Linked DNA regions of Homo sapiens: all the other regions are linked to region 1. Evidence: fine-mapped expression QTL. A gene starts in region 1. Each other region holds a variant in brackets. All regions are shown on one strand. Distances are from middle to middle. Region 1 holds the start of LIMK2 (LIM domain kinase 2). Region 2 overlaps DEPDC5 (DEP domain containing 5, GATOR1 subcomplex subunit). Region 3 has its middle 10 kb from the start of LINC01521.

What was found. PIP is the estimated chance that this variant, and not a neighbour inherited with it, causes the effect.
Region 2: its variant is the best candidate, but not a certain one, in a credible set for the expression of LIMK2 in whole blood (TOPMed, PIP 0.50).
Region 3: its variant is the best candidate, but not a certain one, in a credible set for the expression of LIMK2 in cerebral cortex (GTEx, PIP 0.60).

What each region holds. Positions count from the first base shown.
Region 1 is chr22:31,208,660-31,215,257 of GRCh38, reverse strand. LIMK2 (LIM domain kinase 2) reads right to left here and starts at 2,960. Exons shown (of 16, transcript NM_005569.4): 1 at 2,834-2,960. The coding sequence starts at 2,849. RefSeq lists enhancers at 1,352-2,277, 3,240-3,419 and a silencer at 2,860-3,259.
Region 2 is chr22:31,767,578-31,778,776 of GRCh38, reverse strand. It overlaps DEPDC5 (DEP domain containing 5, GATOR1 subcomplex subunit), which reads right to left. Exons shown (of 43, transcript NM_001242896.3): 7 at 9,914-9,963; 8 at 609-678. Among named protein-coding and RNA genes, the nearest start is that of DEPDC5, 19 kb to the right of the region's middle. The variant T/C (reference allele first, on the strand shown) is at 5,883.
Region 3 is chr22:31,351,359-31,362,557 of GRCh38, reverse strand. No RefSeq gene overlaps it. Among named protein-coding and RNA genes, the nearest start is that of LINC01521, 10 kb to the right of the region's middle. The variant G/C (reference allele first, on the strand shown) is at 6,483.

The DNA.
Region 1 (6,598 bases):
TCAGACTCCATAGTCAACTTCATTCTGCTTTTTGTGCTACAGAGAGGAGGAAGCACTAAACTTGAAGTTGGAAAATATGAACTCTGACCACCACTGCTCATTTAGCTATGGAACCTTGTCATTTCTGGGCCTGTCTCCTCATCTATAAAAAAGCCATACTTGGCTGGGCATGGTGGCTCACGCCTATAATCCTAGCATTTTGGGAGTCCAAGGCGGGTGGACTGCCTGAGCTCAGGAGTTTGAGACCAGCCTGGGCAACATGGTAAGACCCCGTCTCTAATAAAAATACAAAAAATTAGCTGGGCGTGGTAGCACTTGCCTGTAGTCCCAGCTACTCAGGAAGCTGAGGCAGAAGATTCACTTGAACCTGGGAGGTGGAGGGTACAGTGAGTCTGGATCGCGCCACTGTACTCCAGCATGGGCAACAGAGCAAGACTCTTCCTCCCCACCCCCTACAAAAAAATCAAAAAACCATATTGACCTCCCAGCTCCAAGGCTCAAAGGCACTACATGCCTTCCTACCCTAGGGCCTTTTTATGCTGTTTCCTCTGCCTGGAATGCTCTGTGAGCTTTTTTTGCCAGGCTAACTTTTACTTATCTCCAGGGGTCAGCATAAACTTGCATTTTTAAGAAAAGTATTCCCTTCAAAAAAAAAAAAAGTAGAGGATGGGCATGGTGGTTCATGCCTGTAATCCCAGCACTTTGGGAGGTTGAGACAGGAGGATGGCTTGAAACCACCGTGGGCAACATAGTGAGACCCTGTCTCTACCAAAACAGAAAAAAAAGTAGAGAAAACCCTCACCCCTGGTGCACTCTTACAGCACTTATCTCAATTGTTTACCTTAACTATTATAGCATTTATTGCAATTGTTACAATTATTTATTGTCCATCTCTAGGATTATTAAGCACCACAAAGCCAAGAACTATGTCACCACTGTACTCAGCATTTGGCTAAGTATATGACACAGAAGAATCCAACAAATATTCTTTGAATGAAAGAAAGAATGCATAAACTAATGCATCTAGAGGCTTTATGCCTCTAGACTATTGTACTGTGAAACCTTTCACAATTTTCTAAGAAACAGGGTTCAAGACAGGCAACCTATATTACACAGCTGTTAGAAAAAGTTACTGGAAATCGGCCGGGTGCGGTGGCTCACGCCTGTAATCCCAGCACTTTGGGAGGCCGAAGCGGGCGGATCACAAGGTCAGGAGTTCAAGACCAGCCTGGCCAATATGGTGAAACCCCATCTCTACTAAATATACCAAAAAAATTAGCCGGGCGTGGTGGCGGGCCCCTGTTGTCCCAGCTACTCGGGAGGCTGAGGTAGGAGAATCGCTTGAACCCGGGAGGCAGAGGTTGCAATGAGCCAAGATTGTGCCACTGCACCCCAGCCTGGGCGACAGAGCAAGACTCCATCTAAGAAAAAAAAAAAAAAGTTACTGGAAATCATTCGAGTTGAAGGACTCTGTAAGCTTAAAAAAAATCTTTTTTAAGAGACAAGGTTTTGTTTTTAAGAGATGAAGTCTCGCTATATTGCCCAAGCTGGTCTCAAACTCCTGGACTCAAGCGATCCTCCTGCCCTGCCCTCCCAAAGTGCTGGGATTACAGGCATGAGCCACCACGCCCAGCCTAAAAAAATTTGTTTTAGGCATTTCCACCCCTAGCTCTCTCCAGAAGTCTGTTATCACCAGTGAAGAGAAAATCCCATGCTCCCTTGCTGAGGAAGTGACCCACTGGTAGCCCAGTCCTTGCATTCAAGATGAAGGAAGTGACTGTCCACAGACGGAAAGCCAGGAAGCAGGGGGCAGATAGCCAGCCCCCCTCCACCTCAATACCCTCTTGCCGCCTCTCCAAAGCTTCTGGACGCTGACCCTGGTGGACCCAGAGGTGGGCCACCCACACAGGTGGCTGGGAAACATAGGAGACAGAAGGTTCCTACTGCTGGGGGAAAAGATGGGGAAGGCAGGAAGCTGCAGGGTGGTGTGTGAGGTGGCGGGGAGGTGACTGCAGGTGCAACTAACCCAACTCTGAAGCTACCCTTCACCCTTAGACAACTCTTCCTTCCAGGAGGTGTTTGGCCGAATCCCTCTAGTCTTTAGTCTAGAGAGGCCAAGGGAGCTTCCACAGGAGGACTCAGAACCCCAGGTGGCCTACTTTCGCCACCTGTAGCAGAGATCTTTGGGCCCCAAAAAGAATGGTCCGATCTCTCCTTACCCTTAGTCCTGTCCTAAACCTCAAGGGGCTCCATACTCCCTTATTTTCTGCAAAGAGCTCCCAGCCCCGGGGGACTCCCAGACACCAAGATGCCCGCGAGAAGCCTTGGGTCTTGGCAGGGAAGTCACATCCTCCATTTCCCTCAGAAAACCCAGAACCCGGGGTAACTCTCCTAATTGTCCTGAACCCTAGAGGATCCTGTACTCCTCAAATTCCACAGAGCTTCCACTATAAGAGAACCCCATGCTTTTCAACTTCCTTAAAAAGGGTTAATTTGGGGGTCTGCGGCCGCCAGGTCCCTCCAAAAAGCTGGATTCCTGGCAGACCCAGAATCTCTTCCTCCCCGGGACCTCAACTCGCGGGAAGCCTCCCAACCCGCCTGCCCCTCGGAGCCCTCTGTCTCCAGGATGCCCTGCCTCCCCATTCCCGGAGTCCCACCCTCCAAATGCCTGGGGAGCGCTGTGCCCACCCCGCCTCCCAGCTTTTCTGAGGAGCTCGGACCCACGAGGACCCAACCAGCCCGAAACCCCCGAGAGACAGCCGGTTTCCCTCAGGCGCCATGGAACCGGACTTCGGAGATAACAGCGGGACAGGGCGGAGCAGCCCTTCCTTACCCGCCAGCGCGGACATGGTCCCGGGAGCGCGGAAATGGGGAGGAGGAGGCGGGGGACACAGCAGCTCCCCTCAGTTCCCTACAACTCCCCTCAGCTCCTGCCGCCGCCGCCTCAGGCGCGGGAAGACCACAGCCCCAGGCGCGAACGGGATGCACCGCCTACGGCGCCCTGGGAGGACCAAACCACACCTGGCACAGGGGACTGCCCGCCGACGCCCCGCCCCGCCGCTCTCAGGCCTCGCTCCCGAGACGCGGCCCCGCCCCCTGGCTCTGGCTCGGGCTCTGCAGCGGCCCTGGCGCCCCCTAGTGCGAGCGGCGTCCCCTCGAGGTGCTCCCGCCGGTAAGGTTGATTCTGCGGGGGCCGGAAGTCTCAACACGGATGACAGTCCGCACCCATCTAGTCGCCCTCATTTACAGATAGGGAAAGTTAAGGATCAGAGGCTAAGTTCGACTACATTGAAATGGCTTCGCTCATTAGGAGGAGAGCCGGGATGGGAGCCCAGGCCTGCTAACTGCCAGTTCAGAGCTCTTTCCAGTAGTGTTTGGAATCAGGAATATTACAATGGAGGAGCCAGGTCTATCCCACAAACAGCTTTGAGGATGGACTTTTCTTAGAAGCTTCTAGCTCAGAGAAACCACTTCTCTGCGCCACTATGAGTAAGCTGACAGTAAATAATCTCTAAGTCAAAGACAGTTGGAGGCGACCAACCAGCATTCCAGGAGCAGATCCTCAGCCAGGCCAATTAGGTTTAGCGCAGGACGCTGGAGCTTGTGCGCCGCATTGGAAGACGAGCACTCCCCTGCAGGAACATGGGCCTACCATTCCCAGGTCTTCCAACCTTTCAAAACATGCCAAAAATCCAGATATTTAGGTGAAATTTGCCACTTTTAAAAAATGTTGATAGCATCAAAAAGTTCTTAAAATGCCATGTAGACCAAATGAAACACACCTGGCCACTAGATTTGCCCTGTGGGCTGCCAGTTTACAATCTTCTATGAGGAGGAGGGATTACAGGACTAAGAGTTAGGACAGCTGACTGGGTTATGGCAGCTGCTAGCTGGCTGAGTAGCTTTGAGAACCACTTCCGCTCATTAGGTTTGGAAGGAGATTGGGGTCCTCTGTGTGATTAAGATATTAATACATCATCAGCCAGGCCAGCTGGTCCCTGATGACCCACCCTCCCATCAGATTCTCTCACGCTGGGTCTTTCACAATTGTCATTTCCTTACATCAGATTTAGATCACAGGAAACATGTCCAAATGACCAGAAAGAGGATGGAGCCCAGGGAAATGGATTCTGTCCCCTCCACCCCCACCCCTGACCAAAGACAAAGTTCAACCCAGCTGCCTCTGGTCCCAGCAGTTGGGTAAGCAAAGGCAAAGGCAAAGACAAAGGCGAGCACAATTCTCTTCCTTCCTGCTCTAATTCAAACCGGATGCCGGTCAGATTTTTCTCTTCTGGGTGTGGCAGGTGGCTCACGATGTCCTGAGTGTGCACAAAGTGCTGGGGAGGAGGGCTCTGTCCCATTTCCGTTAATTCCTGGGAACTCTTTTCAGTACTCAGTTTTGTAGTTTCTGAGGAAATCATTATAGTAAACACAAGATTGTGTATTGAATTAAAGTGACAGGAATCCAGAGACTCTCCTGACAAGCTGCCTCATGGCTAGCAAACAGGGGACAGGGACTTTCCCCATCCTTCCTACAGAAAGATGTAACACTGTATTTTCCCAGGCAACAAAGCACTGGCATCCTGGGAACCAAAACCTCCTGGGTGTCTTCCCTCTCCCTCCGTTCCACACCAAGGCACCCAGGTCTATCTCTTCTCCCTCCTCATTCTCTCTCACATTCCACTTCCTCCTACCTCCAGCCTCATGGTCTTCACCAGCAGGGAGCTGGGGAATAGCCAAGTCCCCCAAGTTCCTCCCAGGGAAGTTCAGGCGACTCTGAGAAACACAAGTTGAAAATGTAATGGAAGGGAATAGCTTTCTATAGAAATGCTATAGCCAAGAGATATATTTTTAATATGGACCCAAAGAACATTCCAGAAATCACTTGTGAACTCAAGGGGGACTTCTGGAGGGTAGAGAAAGCCTGGGCAGGGAGTAGACCAACTGAGTTTCAATAGCACCCAGGTTACCTGTCCACAGTTTGTTTCACTGGCCATAGCTTGGTCAGTCCCTAGGGCCAGATCCTGCCAGCCGCCTCACAGTCAACTCTCTGAGCCTAGGATCCTGAAACCTGGACCTTGAAAAACAACTCAAGGTTCTGCCCTCTTGAAGGTACTGGTCCACTGGTACCCAACCAGACTTGCCCAGTGTCACTTCCACTTGCTTCAAACTGAGCCAGTCTCTGCCCTCCCTGAATCATCCTACCCAAAACTGACTGTGTTAATCTTCCAAAAGTATGTTTCTGGACCTGTCATCTCTCTGTTCAAAACCCTTCAACAGCACCCCACTGCCTACAAAATAAAAGCCAAACCAGTCCTCATGAGCTGACTACATCTCACCCTGCGGACTTGTCTCCCTATTCCCTTCACTCCAGGACTCTGCTTTTTCCTGAGCACATCCTGCCTTGCGCCACCTGCCATTCCTACAACAACCAGCTCTCCAGGTTCTCTGTAATTTTGTGCCCCACTCTGCCCAGAGTGCAGTCTTGTTTCTCAACTCTAAATGATATAGTGGCATCTGTAACATCACAAAGTAGGACTACCAGACATTAAGTGCCTCCAGGTAAGACGCACCAAGTATATACTATCACCTATGACGTAGTCTTACAAAACAAAAATAATAAGCTTGAATCTGGTCAAGCTTCTAGATCTAACAACCAACTTACAGGAAATACATGGAGAAGAGGAGCTTAATAACATTTCCATGATGCAAATAGCAAAAATGATGCTGTGGGAAATGCAACAGGACAAATAACCTAGTTTCTTTAACAGATAAACTGCAGAGTAGAAAAAATTTCATAGACAGGCCAGGCAAGGTGGCTCACCCCTGTAATCCTAGCACTTTGGGAGGCTGAGGCGGGTGGATCATGAGGTCAGGAGCTTGAGACCATCCTGGCTGACATGGTGAAACCCCGTCTGTACTAAAAATACAAAAAAAATTAGCCGGGCGTGGTGGCGGGCACCTGTAGTCTCAGCTACTTGGGAGGCTGAGGCAGGAGAATTGTGTGAACCCAGGAGGTGGAGCTTGCAGTTAGCCGAGATCCCGCCACTGCACTTCAGCCTGGGCAACAGAGCGAGACTCTGTCACACAAACACACACACAAAAAAACAAAAAATTAGCCAGGCATGATGGCGGGCGCCTGTAGTCCCAGCTACCAAGGAGGCTGAGGCATGAGAATCACTTGAACCCGGGAGACGGGGGCTGTAGTGAGCTGGGATCGCATCACTGCACTCCAGTCTGGGCGGCAAGTGAAACTCTGTCTCAAAAAAAAAAAAAAAAAAAATTCAGAGACAAATAATAGCAATGTATGAAACTGATTTGGATCTCAATTGAAACTACACAAGTTATGAGACAACTAGGGAAATCTGAACAATGTGATTGGATATGATGATTTTAAGAAATTTTTTAAAGGTATTTTGCTTTTTTTTTTTTTTTGAGATGGAGTCTTGCTCTGTCGCCCCGACTGGAGTGCACTGGTGCGATCTCGGCTCACTGCAACCTCTGCCTCCCGGGTTCAAGCGATTCTCCTGCCTCAGTCTCCCGAGTTGCTGAGACTACAGGCGCCTACCGCTACGCCTGGCTAATTTTTTGTATTTTA
Region 2 (11,199 bases), 560 kb before region 1:
GCATGGGTAACGTTCATTGGCAAAGGTCTCTCTTCATGTTTATGACATGATCTTCCATGGGGCTTAACTTTTGCTATGTATGAGTGGGCATGGCATAATGCAGGCCAGATACTCTAGCTCTCTGTTTGACATTAAACAGACCCCTTCAGAAGAAAATGAAGATCAACTCCAAACTGGAGAAATCCAACTGTAAAACAGTTTCAGGAGAACTTGATATTACATGTGGGCAAAGAGTAGCTGTCAAGAGCTTAGCAGATTTTTGTTTGTTTGTGTTTTTTGTTTGTTTTTGAGATGGGGTCTTGCTCTGTTGCCCAGGCTGGAGTGCAGTGATGCAATCATGACCCACTGCAGCTTCGAACTCCTAGGATCCCGGTAATTCTTCCACCTCAGCTTCCTGAATAGCTGGGACCAGAGGTACCCATCACCATGCCTGGCTAATTTTTGTACAGGTGGGTCTCTCCATGTTGCCCAGGCTTGTCTTGAACTCCTGGGATAAAGCAATCTGCCCACCTTGGTGTCCTGCCCCGCCCTTGTTTTATTTTTGATTTTAGGACTTAGCCATAATAGTATGGAGAGATAAAACCAAAAAAGCATTTTATAAATCTTACCCTGGTATCTTCACTGATGTAGCCACACATGACCTTCTCATTCTTAACCCACAGTTCACCAGCCTGTGCTCTGAAAGAATACACACACAAGTTATTACAAGTCTTACATGAAACCAATACATGCCTGGTGCAATAGCTCACGCCTGTAATCCCAGCACTTTGGGAAGCCAAGGCGGGCGAATTACCTGAGGTCAGGACTTCGAGACCAGCCTGGACAACATGGTGAAACCCCATCTATACTAAAAATCCAAAATTTAGCCGGGCATGGTGACACATGCCTGTAGTCCCAGCTACTCAGGAGGCTAAGGCAGGAGAACTGCTTGAAGTCACGAGGCAGAGGTTGTAGTGAGCCAACATCATGCCACTGCACTCCATCCTAGGCAACAGAGTGAGATTCCGTCTCAAAAAATAAAAATAAAACAAACCAAAAAGAAATAGGGGCAACTTCAGGTGGCTCTGCTACTTATACTCAAATGACCTAACTGGTTACAGATTTCCAGAGAACTCCGTGAACAGATTATCCAATATAAAGAACTCTCATACTATACTGAATATGAACAGGGGCTCTTAATCTGGGAGTCCACATATAGGTCTAAAGAAGGGCTTCTTGGCCAGGCATGGTGGCTCACGCCTGTAATCCCAGCACTTTGGGAGGCCACGGAGGGCAGATCACGAGGTCAGGAGTTCGAGATCAGCCTGACCAACATGGTGAAATGATGTCTCTACTAAAAAAAAAAAAAATTAGCTGGGCGTGGTGGCATGCGCCTGTAATCTCAGCTACTCAGGACGCTGAGGCAGGAGAATCACTTGAACCCAGGAGGTGGAAGTTGCAGTGAGCTGAGATCGTGCCACTGCACTCCAGCCTGGGCGACAGAGCGAGACTGTCTCAAAAAAAAAAAAAAAACTTAGGGCCAGGTGCAGTGGTTCATGCCTATAATCCCAACACGTTGAGAGGCTGAGGCGGGTGAATCACCTGAGGTCAGGAGTTCGAGACCACCCTGGCCAACACAGCGAAACCCCATCCCTACTAAAAATACAAAAATTAGCTGGGCATGGTGGCACCTATAGACCCAGCTACTTAGGGAGGCTTAGGCAGGAGAACCGTTTGAACCCAGGAGGCGGAGGTTTCAGTGAGCCGAGATCGCACCACTGCACTCCAGCCTGGGCAACAGAGCGAGACTCTGTCTCAAAAAAAAAAATAATAATAATTAACTAATAGCAACTTGGTATTACATTTTTGGGAATGATGTTTTTTCCTCCATGCATTTTTGAGGGCAAGAAGTAGATAGTACGAGAATGGGTGCAGTGGCTCATGCCTGTAATCCCAGCACTTTGGGAGGCCAAGGCAGGTGGATCACCTGAGGTCAGGAGTTCAAGACCAGCCTGGCCAATATGGTGAAACCCCCTCTCTACTAAAAATACAAAAAATTAAATGGGCATGGTGGTGGGTACCTATAATCTCAGCTTCTCAGGAAGCTGAGGCAGAATCACTTGAACCCCGGAGGCAGAGATTGCAGTAAGCCAAGATCGTGTTATTGCACTCCAGCCTGGGCAACAAGAGCACAACTCAGCCTCAAAAAAAAAAAAAAAAAAAAAGTGAATAGTACAGTAGAAAAAGTAAAGCATGGCTTTCAGACTTGACTGGCCTGAAGAGAAACTGGTCTAGGCAAGAATCCCAGCTGAGTGACACTTACTACGTGAATGGCCATAGTAAATTCATGAGGTTCAGTGGCATTATCTTTAAAAATGAGACAATGGGCCGGGCACGGTGACTCACACCTATAATCACAACACTTTGGAAGGCCAAGGTTGGCAGATTGCTTGAGCCCAGGAGCTTGAGACCAGCCTAGGTAGCATAGTGAGACCCTGTCGCTATAAAAAATACAAAAAATTAGGCAGGTATGGTGGCACATGCTGTAGTCCCAGCTACCTAGGAGGCTGAGGTAGGAGGATCGCTTGGGCCTCACAGGTCAAGGCTGTAGTGAGCTGTGATCGCACCACTGCACTCCAGTCTGGGCAACAGAGTGAGACTATTGCAAAAAACAAAACAAAAAAACAAACAAAACAAAAGAGACAATGAAGCCTACGCCTTACAGAGCTGCTTTCACTTTTTTTTTTTTTTTTTTTTGAGATGTAGTCTCGCTCTGTCGCCCAGTCTGGAGTGCAGTGGTGCGATCTCAGCTCACTGCAACCTCTGACTCCCTGGTTCAAGCGATTCTCCTGCCTCAGCCTCCCGAGTAGCTGGGATTACAGGCACGTGCCACCATGCCCAGCTAATTTTTTATATTTTTAGTAGAGATGAGGTTTCACCATGTTGGCCAGGCTGGTCTCGAACTCCTGACCTTGTGATCCGCCCGCCTTGGCCTCCCAAACTGCTGGGTTTACAGGTGTGAGCCACTGTGCCCAGCCTTCTACAGAGCTGTTTTCAAATTAAACCAGATAATGTGGGGAAACTGTTCAGGACAGTGTGAGGATAGGGCGTGCTCAATTAGTTTACTAGCAAGAACTAGAACTACAGCAGGTATTAACACAAAATGCTATCCTGGAGAGAAAGTGGTAGCTATTAGCTGAGCACCGTGTAATCAATCATCCCTCAACCAACCACCTCAAGCCCTTATCTTCTACCAATTTCACTCTTTCTCCCAACCTGCCTCACCTAAGCAATCAGTCCTCATAAAAAAGGAAGACAAAGGCCAGGTGCAGTGGCTCACATCTGTAATCCCAACACTTTGGGAGGCCGAGGTGGGTGGATCATGAAGTCAGGAGTTTGACACCAGCCTGGCCAACATGGTGAAACCCTGTCTTTACTAAAAACACAAAAATTAGCCAGGCGTGGTGGCAGGTGCCTGTAATCCCAGCTACTCGGGAGGCTGAGGCAGGAGAATTGCTTGAACCTGGGAGGCAGAGGTTGCAATGAGCTCAGATCGCACCATTGCACTCCAGCCTGGGCAACAAGAGTAAAACTCTGTCTCAAAAAAAAAAAAGGAAGGAAGACAAAATCAGATAAAAGCCAGGAAAATGCTGTGTACCATGAGTCATAGTTCAGGCTACCTAGGAAATGCTGGACAATCAATCAATCCCTCTGGGTCTACCCCATGCCAAAATGAAGAAGGCTGGACCAGGCCCATGGCTTATACCAAGTGGGATGCTTTTTCATACTCCTTTGCCCAGTTACGTCTGTGAATGAACAAGTGTCACAAGCCTGACCTCAGAAGAGACTTGTATTTCTTTAATATTGTAATAAGGAGGTCAGGCACGGTGGCTCATGCCTGTAATCCTAGCACCTTGGGAGGCCGAGGTGGGTGGATCACGAGGTCAAGAGATCGAGACCATCCTGGCCAACGTGGTAAAACCCCGTATCTACTATCTTGCTATGTTGCCCAGGGTGGCCTCAAATTCTTGGGCTTGAGCGATTCTCCCACCTCAGACTCCCAAGTAGGTGAAACTACAGGCACAAGCAGCCACACCCAGCTAATTTTTTTGTATTTTCAGTAAAGACGGGGTTTCACCATGTTGTCTAGGCTGGTCTTGAACTCCCAGACTCAAGCAATCTGCCCACTTAAGCCTCTCAAAGTGCTGGGATTACAGGCATGAGCCACCGCACCCAGCCAGCTCTGCTTATAATCGTCAGAACCCCACATTCACAGGACCTCTAAAACAAGCTTGGTGTGGCTGGAGGTGGTGGCTCACGCCTGTAATCCCATCACTTTGGGAGGCCGAGGCAGGCAGATTACCTGAGGTCGGGAGTTCAAGACCAGCCTGAAAAACATGGTGAAACCCCATCTCTACTAAAAACACAAAATTAGCCAGGCATGGTGGCGGGTGCCTGTGATCCCAGCTACTTGAGAGGCTGAGGCAGGAGAATTGCTTGAGCCTGGGAGGCAGAGGTTGCAGAGCCAAGATCACGCCACTGCACTGCAGCCTAGGTGACAGAGTGAGACTCGTCTCAAAAAAAAAAAAAAAAGTTACAATGTGATCCAACAGGCTAGGGTTTAAGGTCATTATTTTTTAAAAGCAAAATGTTAGTCAACAGGAGACAAGATTTTGCTACTATATATATATTTTTTGTTGTTGTTGTTGTTTTGTTTTGTTTTTTTGAGACAGGGTTTCGTTCTTGTTGCCCAGGGTGGAGTGCAATGGCACGATCTCGGCTCACCACAACCTCTGCCTCCCAGGTTCAAGCAATTCTCCTGCCTCAGCCTCCCGAGTAGCTGGGATTACAGGAGCCTGCCATCATGCTCAGCTAATTTTGTATTTTTAGTAGAGACAGGGTTTCACCATGTTCGCCAGGCTGGTCATGAACCCCTGACCTCAGGTAATCCACCCACCTTGGCCTCCCAAAGTGCTGGGATTATAGGCGTGAGCCACCACACCCGGCTCATGTGTTCTTAACTATGTAACTATTACCAGATTGAAAGTTAAATTGCAGGGAAATTATTTGACCATTTGTAATGACTTTAACTATACAAATGACTATACTTTATTTTTCTCACAGGAGGCCCACAGCATCTTTTTTCTCAGGCATTCACGAAGTCAGCAAAAGAAAGTAACCTTTGATCCAGTGTAGAAATACTGTAAGTCTTCTGGAGAAAAGATAGAAGACTGTAGTTTACATTTAACCAAGCCTGAGCAAAATATCAGGACAGATCTTTAAAAGTCTAAAAGAGGCCAGCTGCGGTGGCTCATACCTGTAATCCCAGCACTCTAGGGGGCTGAGCCAAGAGGATCGTTTGAGCCCAGGAGTTGGAAACCAGCCTGAGGAACATAGTGAGACCCTGTCTCTACCATAATGAAACAAAAACAAAAACAAAAAAAGAGCCAGGCATGCTGGCACGCACTTGTAGTCCTAGCTACTCAGGAGGCTGAGGTGGGAGTATTGCTTGGGCCTAGGAGGTTGAGGCTGTAGTGAGGCATGATGGCACAACTGCATTCCAGCCTGGGCGATAGAGGAAGCCCATCTCAGAAATAAATATATAAAAATAAAGTTAAAAAGTGACAATCTGTCAGGGTTTTCTTTTCTCCATCTAGAACTGTGTGTATGAGGGTATTTACATAGAGAAACAAAGAACTTAAAAAAGAAAGAGATCAGCCAGGCGTGGTGACTTACATCTGTAATCTCATCACTTTTGGAGGCCAACGTGTGCAGATCACTTGAGGCCAGGAGTTCGACACCAGCCTGGCCAACATGGCAAGACCCCGTGTCTACTAAAAAAACAAAAATTAGCTGGGCATAGTGGTGCATTCCTGTAGTCCCAGCTATTCAGGAGGCTGAGG[T/C]AGGAGAATCACTTGAAACCAGGAGGCAGAGGTTGCAGTGGGGAGATATCATGCTACTACACTCCAGCCTAGGCAACAGAGAAAGACTCTGTCTCAGAAATAATATATATAATATATATATAATTTAAAAATAAAAGAGGAAGCAATAGAAAAAAAAATGAGAGAGATCTGAATAGGTTTCCAAACCGAGGCTGGCAAACTACATACAGCCTTCAAGCCAATTCTCGCCTATCTCCTGTTTTCATATGGCCCATAGCTAAGAATGGCTGTTACATTTTTAAATGGTCGAAACACACAGAATATGCAATAGACCTGAGATCTATTGCTACTCACAAAGTCTAAAATATTTATTAACTGGTCCTTGACAGAAGAATATTCTAAACCAACTACTCCATTTTGCAGATGTGAAGACTAAGGGTTTACCGAAGTTACCCAACATCACTCGAACCACTAATCACAGTGATGGCTAAACACTGGCTCTGCAGATACAGATCCAGGCTTCCTGACCCTGGATACCCATCCAGTAGAGATCTGCTGATACTGGAGGCATAAACCTTGGTTACATTTTTTGTGCTGCTTGAGATTTAGTCACTTCTTGGGTTGTGCTTTAGTTGCTTGGATGTTTTAAAGAACACTGACCCGCTAACAAATTTTTGTTTGTTTTCAAAGATGGGATCTCACTCTGTTGCCCAGGCTGGAGTACAATAATGCAATAATAGCTCACTGCAGCATCGACCTGTGCTTCAGTGCTCCTCCAACCTGTTTCCCAAGTACCTCAAACTAGAGGAGCCCTGACACCAACCCCCGTTCTTTTTTTTATTGTTATTTTAGCCAGAGTCTGACTCTGTCACCCAGGCTAGAAGGCAGCAGAATGATCAAGGCTCACTACAGCCTTGAACCTCCCTGGATTTAGGTGATCCTTCCACCTCAGCCTCCCAAGTAACTGGGACTACAAGCGCCACCATGACCAGCTAATTTTTGTATTTTTTTGTAGGGATGGGGTTTCAGCATATTGCCAGGTTGGTCTTGAACTCCCAGGCTCAAGCAAACTACCCACCTCAGCCTTCCAAAGTGCTGGGATTAGAGGCATGAGCCACTGCACCTAGTCCTAACTGTGTGTGTGTGTGTGTGTGTGTGTGTGTGTGTGTGTGTGTGTGTGTGTGTGTGTGTGTGTGTGTGACGGAGTCTTGCTCTGTCACCAGGCTAGAGTGCAGTGGTGTGATCTCGGCTCACTGCAACCTCTGACTCCCTGGTTCAAGCGATTCTCCTGCCTCAGCCTCCCGAGTAGCTGGGACTACAGGCACAGGCCACCACACCCAGCTGATTTTTGTATTTTTAGTAGAGATGGGGTTTCACCATGTTACCCAGGATGGTCTCGATCTCCTGATCTCGTGATCTGCCTGCCTCAGTCTCCCAAAGTGCTGGGATTACAGGTGTGAGCCAACCAGCAATTTTTTAAAAATTACTATTTCTGTAGAGATGAGGTCTTACTATGTTGTCCAGGCTGGTTTGAACTCCTGGCCTCAAGTGATCCTCACGCCATAGCCATTTTACCTGGCTCCCCACAACAAGTTTCAAAATACCCTTTTTGGGAGAAAAAATGAAGCCTCTATCCTTTCTTTCTTTTTAGGATCAGTATTTCATTCTGGTCAAATAGACCTAGTTGATGATGAAAAATTATTTACAGAAGGATTCTGGCTAATAAATGTAGAAGGGATGACTTAATTAAAAAATCACCAAAAAAAGGAAAGAAAATCACCATCTTACAACAATCCTCAATGGATGAAACCATTAGGTGAAAAGTTGATGGGGGCCGCGTGCGGTGGCTCAACGCCTATAATCCCAGTGCTTTGGGAGGCTGAGGAGGCGGGATCACCTGAGATCAGGAGTTTGAGACCAGCCTGGCCAACATGGTGAAACCCCATCTCCACTGAAAATACAAAAATTAGCCGGGCATGGTGGCACGTGCCTGTAGTTCAGGAGGCCCAGGCAGAATAATTGCTTGAACCTGGGAGGCAGAGGTTGCAGTGAGACAAGATCACACCACTGCACTCCAGCCTGGGCGACAGAGTGAGACTTTGTCTCAAAAAAAAAAAAAAAAAAGAAAAGTAGATGGGGATCTTTATAACGAGGGACTACACTGCACCCTGTGACCCCACTGAACAAGCTTAGGATCACCACAAGTCAGTTAACAAGACAAATATGCCGGGTGAGGTAGCTCACACCTGTAATCCCAGCACTTTGGGAGTCGAAGGTGGGCAGATCACGAGGTCAGGAGTTCGAGACCAGCCTGACCAACATGGTGAAACTCCGTCTCTACTAAAAATACAAAAAAAAAAAAAAAAAATTAGCTACGTGTGGTGGTGGGTAACTGTAATTCCAGCAACTCACGAGGCTGAGGCAGGATAATTGCTTGAAATCAGGAGGTAGAGGCTGCAGTCAGCCAAGGTCCCACCACTGCACTCCAGCCTGGGTGACAGAGCAAGACTCTGTCTCAGAAAAAAAAAAACAAAAAAACAAGACATAAATATGATTGTGTGTACACAGTAAATTTCAGGAAAGAAACAAGTTGTTTCTGGGGAGAGGAATGTATATTTCATGAGATACCTTTCTGAATTATTTGAATGCTTAATTATGTGCATGTTGTACTTTTTTTTTTTTTGAGACAGTCTCACTCTGTCACCCAGGCTGCAGTGCAGTGGCATGATAATGTCTCACTGCAGCCCCAACCTCCCAGGGCTCAGGCGATCCTCCCACCTCAGCCTCCTGAGTAGCTGGGACTACAGTCGCACACCACCATGCCTGGCTGTTTTTTTTTTTTTTCTCTTTTTTTTAGAGACTATTTGTCACGTGGCCCAAGCTGGTCTTGAACTCCTGGGGCTCAAGCACACTCAGCCCACCTTGGCCTCTCAAAGTGCTGAGATTACAGGTGTGAGCCACCGCACCTGAAATACTTTCTGAATTTTTTTTTTGAGGCAGGGTCTTGCTCTGTCATCCAGGCTGGAGTGTAGTGGTGTGATCCCAGCTCACTGCAGCCTCTACCTCCCAGGCTCAAGCGATCCTCCCACCTCTCAGCCTCCCGGGTAGCTGGACTACAGGCGTGTGTCACCACACCCAGCTAATTTTTGTATTTTTTTGTAGAAATGGGGTCTCACTATGTTGCCCAGGCTGGTCTTCAACTCCTGGGCTCAAGCAACAATCTACCCACCTCAGCATCCCAAAGTGTTGGGATTACAAGTGTGAGCCACCACACCCAGCCACTTTTTGAATTTAAAGGGGATTTCACAAAGTCTCTTTTTTCTTCACAAACTAAAATATAGAAATAGTTTTAATAAATCAAGAGTACAGCAATATAGTTAAAAAGGTAACAAATCAGGAGCCAATGTGCCAGTCATTTTATGTTTCTAAACCTGTTTCCTAATTTGTAAAATGAGAAAGTATGATTCAATACGTGCATCTAGGGTTTTTCCAGTTGTAAAATTACGAGTCTCTATCTCCTTTTTTTTTTCTACTTCCTTTTTTACAGAATGCCAGGGGGCTTCATCAACTTTTTCCATTAATAAGCCTCAAACTACTATAGTGCATTTTGTGGTTTGTTTGAGCTACAACAATCTAACTTTTTTTTTTTTTTTTTTGAGACGGAGTTTTGCTCTGTCGTCCAGGCTGGAGGGCAGTGGCGTGATCTCGGCTCACTGCAAGCTCCGCCTCCCGGGTTCACGCCATTCTCCTGCCTCAGTCTCCCAAGTAGCTGCGACTACAGGCGCCCGCCACCACGCCCAGCTAATTTTTTGTATTTTTAGTAGAGACGGGGTTTCACCGTGTTAGCCAGTATGGTCCTGATCTCCTGACCTCGTGATCCGCCCACCTTGGCCTCCCAAAGTGCTAGGATTACAGGCGTGAGCCACTGTGGCCAGCCAACAATCTAACATTTTATACTTTTACACATTTTATTATATGGACATCCATACGCCTCCACTGCTTTATGTAGCCCAGTTACTGCACAGATAAGGCAAGAGTGATGTAATATCTACCTGATGCCAGCAAACTCCACCTTCTGGGTGATATAGGCACATGTGCTGACCTAAGAGGAGGGGGAGAGAGGGGTAGAGAGAGGGAGGGAGGGAGAGAGGGTGAGAAAGAGAGAGAGATTGATTAACATATTAAGGCCATGAAAAATCACAAACAAGAACTCCTAGCTTTCTAATCTCTTCTACCAACCCAAAGTTGAACTAGCTTGTGAGTAATAGATTTACCCACAGGAAAACCTGTTAGGGTAGGTATGACAGTAGGTGCTTAAAGAGTTTGGCAAGTATAGATAATAGCAAAGACCAGGTGGATGATAAATGACCAGCTTTACAAATATCCTCATCTTCACATATGTTTACATACATATCTGCATTTACATACTCATTTAAATATTGTGTTGTTTCTCATTTTATCTCTCACTTTAGAAAATGGAACCCTCAACAAATTAAAATTAAGCAGATTTTTCCTGAAAATATACCCTGTATGGAAATTCTACCTATAATTTGTGGTTACATAGTATACAAAAACTTCATTTCTTTTGATTAGTGTCAAAATGGAAAAAAAAACCTCAAATGAGAATTTTCAGAACCAGTTCATAATTCTGATGAACTAATCTTTTCAAGTTGAAATGTTCATTAAAAAATTAATAAATGTGGGTGTGGTGTACTGTTTGGGTAATGGGTGCATCAAAATCTCACGAATCACCATTAAAGAACTTACTCATATAACCAAACACCACCTGTTCCCCAGTAACACGGAAATAAAAAAAAATTAAAAAAAAAAACAATTAAAATATAATAAAAATATTTTTTTTTAAAAAATGGGGCCGGGTGCACTGGCTCACACCTGTAATCCCAGCACTTTGGGAGGCCGAGATGGGACGATCACGAGGTCAGGAGATCGAGACCATCCTGGCTAACGTGGTGAAACCCTGTCTCTACTAAAAATACAAAAAATTAGCCGGGTGTGGTGGCGGGCGCCTGTAATCCCAGCTACTCGGGAGGCTGAGGCAGAAGAATGGGTGAACCCGGGAGGCAGAGCTTGCAGTGAGCAGAAATCGCACCACTGCACTCCAGCCTGGGTGACAGAGCGAGACTCTGTCTCAAAAAAAATAAACAAATGAATAATTAAAAAATGGGCCGGGCACGATGCCTCACACCTATAATCCTAGCACTTTGGGAGGCCAAGGTGGGCAGATCACCTGAGGTCAGGAGTTCAAGACCAGCCTGGCCAACATGGTGAAACCCCCACCTCTACTAAAAATACAAAAAAAAAGCTGGGAGCGGTGGCT
Region 3 (11,199 bases), 140 kb before region 1:
CCGTCTCTCTACTAAAAATGCAAATTAGCTGGGTGTGGTGGCACGCGCCTGTAGTCTCAGATACTTGGGAGGTTGAGGCAGCGGGATCACTTGAACCCAGGAGGCAGAGGTGGCAGTGAGTGGAGATCGAGCCACTGCACTCCAGCCTGGGTGACACAGTGAGACTCTCTCAAAAAAAAAAAAAAAAAAATAGAATGCAACCCTTTGTCTCTCTTATCTACCTATGACCTGGAAGCCCCTCCTTCCAGTTGTCCTGCCTTTCCAGAATGAACCAATGTACATATACACATATTGATTGATGTCTCATGTCTCCCTAAAATGCATAAAAGCAAACTGCACCCCAACCACCTTGGGCACATGTCTTCAGGACCTCCTGAGGCTGTGTCATGGGCACGTCCTTAACCTTGGCAAAATGAACTTTCTAAATTGATTGAGATCTAAATCAGATACTTCTGGGTTCACAGGCTGGACTCTGGCTGCCCCCCTTTTTTTGTAGAGACAAGGGGCTCTCTATGTTGTCCAGGCTGGTCTCCAACTCCTGGGCTCCCTCCTGGGCCTCCTACAGTGCTGGGACTACAGGCCTGAGCTGCTGTGTCCAGCCTGTTTTCCCCTTTGCTGTGGTGCCTTCTTCAGCCCTGTAGTTCCCATTTGTGCCACACATCTCACCAAGTTACCCTGGCCCTTAGAAACACCTGAGTTTGAGACTCCTAATTTAGATCAATTCCCTTGTTTTACAGATGAGGAAACTGAATCATGGAGAAAGGAGGGGACTTAACTAGGGTCACAAAGACTGGAGACTTTGCTGGGCGTGGTGGCTCACGCCTGTAATTATCGCATTTTGGGAGGCTGAGGCGGGAGGATTGTTTGAGACCAGGAGTTCAAGACCAACCTGAGCAATATGGTGAGACCCTCTCTCTACAAAATAAATAAATAAATAAAAAATATAGTCAGGCATGGTGGCTCATGCCTGTAATCCTAGCACTTTGGGAGGCTGAGGTGAGTGGATCACTGGAGACCAGGAGTTTCAGACCAACCTGGCCAACATGGCGAAACCCCGTCTCCACTAAAAATACAAAAATTAGCCAGGCATGGTGGTGTATGCCTGTAGTCCCAGCTACTTGGGAGGCTGACGCATGCGAATCACTTGAGCCCAGGAGGTTGAGGCTCCAGCAAACTGAGATTGCACCATTGCACTCCAGCCTGGGCAACAGAGCAAGACTCTGTCTCAAAAAAAAAAAAAAAAAATTCAATGGTTAAAGGGTACAAAAAAATAGGATGAATAAAATCTATTTGATAACATAATAGGGTGACTATAGTCAATAATAACTTAATTGTACTTTTAAAAATAAAGAGTGTAACTGGATTGTTTGTATCTCAAAGGATAAATGCTTGAGGGGATGAATACCCCATTCTCCATGATGTGCTTATTTCACATTGGATGCCTGTATCAAAACATCTCATGTACCTGTAAATATATATACCTACTATGTACCACAATAATTTAAAAAAAATAAATAATTATTTGAGCTGGTAAGAATGATAAGAGCATAACAAAGCAAAAACTGAAGACTCCAGCTGTGTCCCAAGTCCCAGTCCTGCAGTTTTGTTTTGTTTTCATTTTTTTTTTTTTTTTCTGAGACGGAGTCTTACTCCCAGGCTGGAGTACAGTGGCTCGATCTCACCTCACTGAAACTTCCACCTCCCAGATCCAAACAATTCTCCTGCCTCAGCCTCCTAAGTAGCTGGGATTATAGGCACATGCCACCACGCTCGGCTAATTTTTGTATTTTTAGTAGAGACGGGTTTTCACCATGTTGGCCAGGCTGGTCTCGAACTCCTGGCTTCAAGTGATCCACCCTCCTCGGCGTCCCAAAGTGCTGGGATTACACGCATGAGCCACCACGCCTGGGCAGCCCTGCATTTCTTTTAGAGCACATGCCAGGAACCAGAAAACTAGGAATCCTTGTTCCTGATATGAAGGTTGAGAGCCGTCTTATGCGAAGTGCCTCACATAGAATAATATGTACCTCATATAGCACTTCCGATTGGGCTGGTGCCTCTAGAATCTTTTGTAACCTATCACTTCCTCCCCACCCTCACCCCAAGGGATTGTAACACACACACAGGTTTGGGAATCACCTGGCATTGAATATATTACATTCTCACCTAGAAAGATCCAGCTGTCAGAAAAGAAATACCCCAGGGCCTTTCTTCTTCACCAGTCAGAATTTTATTGTGGCATCCTGTAGGAAGCCTGCCCCCATGCCCCAGGCTAGGTCCTATCATATTTAATATGACTTCTGTAATTCCTGTGCTTCTTTCATCACAGCATTTAACACTGAATTGCAAACAACAACAAATAGCTGTCACTGATTAAGCATTTACGATGTGCATAATAATATTCTCATTCATTTCTATAAGAACCCCTTAGGCACCAGGCTTGGTGGCTGGCTGACTCCTGTAATCCTAACATTTTGAGAAGCCTAGGCAGGAGGATCACTTGAGCCTAGGAATTTGAAACCAGCCTGAGCAACTTAGTGAAACTCCATCTCTACAAAAAAAAAAAAAAAAAAAAAAATTTTTTACTGGGTGTGGAGCCACATGCCTATGGTCCCAGCTACTTGGGAGGCTCAGGCAGGAGGACTGCTTGAGCTAAGGAGGATGAGGCTGCAGTGAGCTGTAATCATGACATTGCACTCCAGCCTGGGTGACAGAGTGAGACCCTCCCTCAAATAAAGAACCTCTTAGGTTCTGGGCTGTTAAGTAAATTTGCCCCAAATTACAAAGCTGGAAGTGGGTTCAGAACCAAGCTCCACCTCAGTTGATAGAATTTGATTTTCAGGCCAGACTCGGTGGCTCATGCCTGTAATTTCCCACACTTTGGGAGGCTGAGGTGTGCAGATCACTTGAGGTCAGGGGTTCAAGACCAGCCTGGACAACATGGCAAAACCATGTCTCTACTAAAAATGGAAGACTTAGCCAGGAATGGTGCTGCATGCCTGTAATCCCAGCAACTTGGGAGGCTGAGGCACAAGAATTGCTTGAACCCGGGAGGCAGAGGTTGCAGTGAGCTGAGATCACTCCACAGCACTCCAGCCTGGGTGACAGAGCGCAACTCTGTCTCAAAAAAAAAGGAAAGAAAAGAAAAGAAAAAAGAAAGAAAGAAAAAGAAAAGAAATTGATTTTCAGAGACAAGTGAGGCCCCAAACCTTGAGGATGCAGGCTGACTCTATCACCTTGACTCTCCAGGTTCTTCACATGAATCTTGCAAAGTCAGGTCTGCACAGGAGGGAGCTGGGGAGTCAACCCAGGAGGGAATCTCAAGGGGCTTGGAAGTGTTTTTGTGAATGTGGACTGTGGACTGCAACCTTCTGCTTGTATCTCCACCTACCCCTCACTCTAGCCTGGACCTGAGACAGATGACAATAAAACACTCCAAATTCCTGAGCTGGAATGGACCTGAGGCTCATTTAGCTAATAATTCTTTTTTTTTTTTCACTCTGTCACCCAGGCTGGAGTGCAGTGCAGTGGTTCAAACACAGTACACTGCAGCCTCAACCTCCTGGGCTGAAGCCATTCTCCTGGCTCAGCCTTTCGAGTAGCTGGGACCACAAGCTCATGCCTCCTTGCCTGGCTAATTAACAAAAAAATTTTTTTGTAGCCACACGGTCTTGCCATATTGCCCAGGCTGATCTTGAACTCCTGGGCTCAAGCAATCCTCTTGTCTTAGCCTCCCAAAATGCTGGGATTACAGGTGTGAGCCACCACACTCGGCTATGATTCTTCTTTTTATTTATTTATTTTTATTTTTTTGAGATGGAGTCTGTTGCCCAGACTGGAGTGCAATGGCACGATCTCGGCTCCCTGCAAGCTCCGCCTCCTGGGTTCACGCCATTCTCCTGTCTCAGCCTCCCAAGTAGCTGGGACTACAGGCGCCCGCCACCACACCCAGCTAATTTTTTGTGTTTTTAGTAGAGATGGGGTTTCACCATGTTAGCCAGGATGGTCTCGATCTCCTGACCTTGTGATCTGCCCCCCTCGGCCTCCCAAAGTGCTGGGATTACAGGGGTGAGCCACCGTGCCCGGCCCCGATTCTTCTTTTTATTTATTTATTTGAAACAGAGTCTTCGTCTGTCACCCAGGCTGGAGTGCAGTGGCGCAATCTTAGCTCACGGCAACCTCTGCCTCCTGGGTTCAAGCGATTCTCGTGCCTCAGCCTCCCGAGTAGCTGGGACTACAGGCACGCACCATCACACCCAGCTAATATATATATATATTTTTTTTTAGTAGAGGCTGGGTTTTGTCATGTTGGCCAGGCTGGTCTCGAACTCCTGGCCTTAAGTGATCTGCCCCACCCTCAGCCTCCCAAAGTGTTGGGATTACGGGCATAAACCGCCATGGCCGGCTCATAATTCTTATTTTAAATCTAAATTTTGAATTTCAGAATACTGTTGTTTTAAGCTCCTTTCCCCCACCAATCTACTTACCTCCCACCTCCAGTAGAAAACGCCTCATAAAAGCAGCACTCGTCGCCCCACAAGCTGTCTTTCTCCATTTCTAGTCCAGCATATGAAATCAGATTATCATATTAAAGCTTCTGGTATGTATGATGTGCAAAGACGTTCTTCTCAGTGCTATCTATAATAGCAAAGAAAATGAAAAAGGACACAACCTAAGTGTTCCACAGGAGAAACCGTTAGAGAATCAAGATCAAGATACAACCAATCATCCAGTCGGGAAGCTTTGCAGCCCGTGAAAATAAGATTTCTTTAATATTTACTTATTTTATTTTTAATTTTTATGTAATGACTTGAAAGGTACTCATGATATTATGGGTTCTCTATGGCTTTTCTTTTCTTTTTTTTTTGAGGCAGAGTCTTGCTCTGTTGCCCAGGCTAGAGTGCAGTGGTGCGATCTCGGCTCACTGCAACCTCCGCCACTGGATTCAAGCGATTCTCTTTTCCTCAGCCTTCTGAGTAGCCGGTATTACAGGTGTGCGTCACCACACCTGGCTAATTTTTGTATTTTTAGTAGAGACGGGGTTTCATCATGTTGGTCAAGCTGGTCTTGAACTCCTGAACTCATGATCCACTCGCCTCAGCCTCCCAAAGTGCTGGGATCATAGGTGTGAGCCACCACGCCTGGCCTCTCTATTGCTTTTCAAATGACAAAAGTAACTAGTTGCGTTGTAAAAATAAAACACTATATAAGTGTTTTTGTTTTTGTTTTTGAGACAGAGATTCACTCTTGTTGCCCAGGCTGGAGTGCAATGGCACGATCTCGGCTCACTGCAATCTCTGCCTCTCAGGTTCAAGCGATTCTCTTGCCTCAGCCTCCCAGGTAGCTGGGTTTACAGGCATGTACCACCATGCCTGGCTGATTTTTGTATTTTTAGTAGAGACAGGGTTTCACTATGTTGGTCAGGCTTGTCTCGAGCTCCTGACCTCAGGTGGTCCACCCACCTTGGCCTCCAGAAGTGCTGGGATTACAGGTGTGAGCCATCGTGCCTGGCGCCTCTATTGCTTTTCAAATGACAAAAGTAACCATTTGCGTTGTAAAAATAAAATAAAACACTATGAAAGTGTTTAAGATAAAAAGTGAAAGTGGCCCCAAAACACACTTACCTACAGTCCCAGTGTTAATCTGCAACATATTCATAATATACTGCTTCATTTAAGAAGCAGGAGAGGGCAGGTGTGGTGGTGGGTGCCTGTAATCCCAGCTACTCACTTGGCTGAGGTAGGAGAATTGTTCAAGCCCACAAGTTCAGGTTGCAATGAGTTATGAACTCATCACTGCACTCTACCCTGGGCGATAAAGTGAGACACTCATTTCTTAATGTAAAAAAAAAAGCATATATTCATTAGTAGTATTTTTAACAACAGTGCATTGAAACTGAAAAAAAAAAGTCAAGATGAAAATATACCAACATTTGGCCAGGCACAGTGGCTCACGCCTGTAATCCCAGCACTTTGGGAAGCTGAGGCAGGTGGATCACCTGAGGTCAAGGAGTTCAAGACCAGCCTGACCAACATGGTGAAACCTCATCTCTACTAAAAATACAAAACTTAGCTGGGCATGGTGGCAGGCGGGAGGGTGAGGCAGGAGAATCACTTGGACCTGGGAGGTGGAGTTTGCAGTGAGCTGAGATGGCGCCGTTGCACTCACTCCAGCCTGGGCGACAAGAGCAAAACTCCATGAAAAGAAAAAAACAGAGAGAGAGAGAAAAAGGAGGAGGAGGAAAAAGAAGAAGAGGAAGAGGAAGAAGAAGGAGGAGGAGGAGAAGGAAGAAAGAGAGAAAGAAAGAAAGAAAGAAAGAAAAAAAGAAAGAAAAAGAAAGAAAGAAAGAAAGAAAGAAAGAAAAAGAAAGAAAGAAAGAATATACCAACATTTTAGTACTTCTATTTAAGTGGTGAGACACTATGGATAATTTATTATCGTTTCCTCTGCTTTGCCTCATTTTCCAAATTATATTTGATGGA[G/C]AAAATAAACATTAAAAAGAAAAATAAGGCTGGGCACAGTGGCTCACGCCTGTAATCCCAGCACATTGGGAGGCCAAGGCGGGCAGATGGCTTGAGCCCAGGAGTTTGAGACCAGCCTGAGCAACGTAATGAAATCTTTGTCTCTACAAAAAATACACAAATTAGCCGGGCGCAGTGGCACACGCCTGTAATCCCAGCACTTTGGGAAGCCGAGGCGGGCAGATCGCTTCAGCCTAGGAGTTTGAGACCAGCCTGGACAACATGGTAAAACCCCTCTACAAAAAGTATAAAAGTTAGCCAGGTGTGGTGGCTGACACCTGTGGTCCCAGTCACTCTGGAGGCTGAGGAGGGAGGATTGCTTGAGCCAAGGAGGTGGTAGAAGCTGCGGTGAACCGTGATGGCACCACCACACTCCAGCCTGGGTGACAGAGCAAGACCCTGTCTTTAACAAAAAATAAAAATAGGCTGGGCTTGTGCTCACGCTCACGCCTGTAATCCCAGCACTTTGGGAGGCAGAGGTGGGCAGATCACCTGAGCTTAGGAGTTGGAGACCAGCCTGGCCAACATGGTGAAACCCTGTCTCTATCAAAAATACGAAAATTAACCAGGCATGGTAGTGCACACCTGTAGTCTCAGCTACTCGGGAGGCTGAGGTGGGAGGATCGCTTGAGCCCCAGAGGCAGAGAATGCAGTGAGCTGAGATTGTGCCACTGCACTCCAGCCTGGTTGGCACAGCAAGACCCTGTCTCAAAAAATAATAAAAATAAAAACAGCTGGGTGCAGTGGCTCACGCCTGTAATCCCAGCACTTTGAGAGGCTGAGGTGGGTGGATCACCTGAGGTCAGGAGTTCGAGACCAGCCTGTCCAACCAGTGAAATCCCATCTCTACTAAAAATACAAAAATTAGCTGGGGGTGGTGATGGGTGCCTGTAATCTCAGCTACTTGGGAGGCTAAGACAGGAGAATCACTTGAACCTGGGAGGTGGAGGTTGAAGTGAGCCGAGATAGCATTACTGCACTCCAGCCTGGGCAACAGAGTGAGACTCCGTCTAAAAAAAAAAAAAAAGAAAGAAAGAAAAAAAATTATCTGGACATGGTGGCATGTGCCTGTAGTCCCAGCTACTCAGGAGGCTGAGGCAGGAGAATTGCTTGAACCTGGGAAGCGGAGGTTGCAGGGAGCTGAGATCATGCCACTGCACTCCAGCCTGGGTGAAAGAGCGAGACTCTGTCTCAAAATATAAAAAATACAAAAATTTTTAAAAATAAAATTAAAAAATAAAAGTGTGTGGCACCTACTCTCACTTGCTCCTGTTTTCACCATGTGACTTGCCTGATCCCCCTTTGCCTTCTGCCATGATTGAAAGCTCCCTTAGTCTTCACCAGAAACTGGGCAGATGCCAGCACCATGCTTCTATAGAGCCTGCATAACCATGAGTCAATTAAACGTCTTTTCTTTTCTTTTTTTTTTTTTTTGAGATGGAGTCTCAGTCTGTCACCCAGCCTGGAGTGCAGCGATGCGATCTTGGCTCACTGCAACCTCCACCTCCCAGGTTCAAGTGATTCTCCTGCCTCAGTCTCCCGAGTAGCTAGGACTACAGGTGCCCGCCACCACGCCCAGTTAATTTTTTATATTTTTAGTAGAAACGGGATTTCACCATGTTGGTCAGGCAGGTCTTGAACTCCTGACCTCAGGTGATCCACCCACTTCGGCCTCCCAAAGTGCTGGGATTACAGGCTTAAGCCCCCGTGCCTGGCCTCTTTTTTTCTTTTTTTGAGACAGAGTTTCGCTGTTGTCACCCAGGCTGGAGTACAATGGTGTGATTTTGGCTCACTGCAACCTCCGACTCCTGGGTTCAAGCGATTTTCCTGCCTCAGCCTCCCGAGTAGCTGGTATTCCAGGCACACACCACCTTACCTGGCTAATTTTTGTAATTTTAGTAGAGACGGGGTTTCACCATGTTGGCCAGGCTGGTCTTGAACTCCTGACCTCAGGTGATCTGCCGGCCTCAGCCTCCCAAAGTGCTGGGATTACAGACGTGACCCCAAATATCTTGTCCCCACAGCATCTCCATTGCCCAGCACGGTGCGTGGCACAAATAAGACACCCATAAATACTTCTTGAATGAATAAATGAAAAAATCATTTTGGCTCTCAAATTGTCAGACATTTCACTAACCACCATTACAGCTAACCCAACATGGGAAGGACCTAGTGTTTTTATACACTGCTGTTGAATCAAATGTCACTCAGGAATCTCACCTAAAAGCTTAACTCATGCGAGCACTATGACTTTTTTTTTTTTTTTTTTTTTGAGACTGAGTCTCACTCTGTCACCCAGGCTGGACTGCAGTGGTGTGATCTTGGCTCACGGGCAACCTCCAGGAAGACCTTCAGGCACTTCTGGACATTAACTCTTTCTCTGTAATGTGCAGCTGATTTTCTTCAGTTAGACAGTTGCCTTTCACGTGTATGTATGTGTGTGGCCATGTTTCCTGCCCCCGTGTCACCAGCGATACCTTGACTCTCTCTCCTTCAGGTAATCAGGCACAAAAAAGAAAATCCTGGGGTGGGCACGGTGGTTCACGCCTGTAATCCTAGCACTTTGGGAGGCCGAGGCGGGCGGATCACTTGAGGTCAGGAGTTAGAGACCAGCCTGGCCAAAATGGTGAAACCCCATCTCTACTAAAAATACAAAAATTAGCCGGGCATGGTGGCGGGCGCCTGTAATCCCAGCTACTCTGGAGGCTGAGGTAGGAGAATTGCTTGAACATGGGAGGCAGAGGTTGCAGTGAGCTGAGATCATGCCACTGCACTGCAGCCTGGGCAACAAGAGCGAAATTCCATCTCAAAAAAACAAAAAAACAAAAAAATCCTCCCAGGTTAAAGTATAGAAATACAAACAATTACACATGAGGACTTTTTTTTTCCTTTTTGTGCCTGATTAATGAAAAGAAAGAGTGTTAAAGTCTCTGCTAGTGATGCAGAGGCAGGAAACATGGCCAATGATAAACCGTGGCCTACTGGGTCCCAGTCGGGCCTTGAAGACCACAGCACAGAGGGGCTGAGATAACTTGGACGGAGCAGGGAAGCAGGAACTGCTGAGCCTCTCCCTCCTGCAAGATCCTTGTGTAGCTGAAGGAGCTAGGCCTCCGTGTGAGGTGGAAGATTTGCCCACTCCTCCCAGTCATGAAGGAAACCCAACTGTCGAGAAAGAAAAGGGGTCCAAGGTGCTGGAGAAAGAACCTGGCTGTTGGAATCAGGGAGACCTGCGCTCAGTTTGGACCGCACAACCTTCACGAGGGCAGGCGTGGATGAACCAACTAACTTTCCAGTTGGCTCACCTATAAACAGGGGGCAATGGCTGGGTGTAGTGGCTCACATCTGTAATTCCAGCCCTATGGGAGGGTGAGGCATGAGGACTGCTTGAGGCCAGGAGTTTGAAACCAGCCTGGGCAACATAGTGAGACTCCATCTCTACAAACATTTGTAAAAATGATCTGGGCGTGGTGGCATAACCCAGAGTCCCAGCTATTCTGGAGGTGGAGGCGGGAGGATCACTTGAGTCCAAAGCATTCCAGACTGCAGTGAGCTATGATGGTGACAGTACATGCCAACCTGGGTGACAGAGACCCTGTCTCTGAAAAAACAAAAGGCAGGGACAATGATCCTACCCTCAGAGAGAGGCTATGGGGGTTAAATGAACCTCTGGCACTGTTCACCCAAAGCCAAACTATCAGCAAGGGCAGACCTTGAACTTGAACTTGTGTCTGTCTGGCTCCAAAACAACTCCATTCATGCTTGAAGTGCCATGATTGTTCAAGGAATGGTCTTGTTGCTATTGTTATTAAGAAGTTGAACAGCCCAGCATTGAAGTGAGCAAAGAAAGTCGGTTGGCTTCACATGCCTTCTAAGAAAGACTGATAAAGGCTAAAGGCGAGTGGGGCAGAAACTAGGGTGCCTCATTCCTGTGTTTCCCTCCATCTCCTCCTCCCATCAGGTCCTCAATAAAGCCTGGCAGCCTGGATTTGTGCTGAAAGCCCCTGGAGCAGGCAGAGGTACCTGCTATTCAGCATGCTTTGGGCCTTCCTCTCCCTTCCCTATCTGCTCATTCCTCAGTTTCCACACCAGTAAAATGGGAATCATCAGAGTAAGTGCCTCATAGGGTTGTTGTGAGGATTCCAGAGGGTAAACCAAGGAGTGCTCTCAGCACTATGGCTGGCACAGATAGTGCTTAACAAAGTTGTTATTATTATTATTATTTTGAGACGGTGTCTCGCTCTGTTGCCCAGGCTGGAGTGCAGTGGCACAATCTCCTCTCACTGCAACCTCCACCTCCCAGGTTCAAGTGATTCTCTTGCCTCAGCCTCCCGAGTAGCTGGGATTACAGGTGCATGCCACCACGCCTGGCTAATTTTTGTATATTTAGTAGAGACAGGGTTTCACCATGTTGGTCAGGCTGGTCTCCAACTCCTGACCTTGGGATCCACCCACCTCAGCCTCCCAAAGTGCTGGGATTACAGGCATAAGCCACTGTGCCCTGTCATTATTATTATTTTTGTTGTTGTTGTTGTTTTTGAGATGGAGTCTCGCTCTTGTTGCCTAGGCTGGAGTGCAGTAGCATGATCTCAGGTCACTACAATGTCTGCCTCCAGGGTTCAAGCCATTCTCCTGCCTCAGCCTCCTGAGTAGCTGGGACTACAGATGCCCGCAACCATGC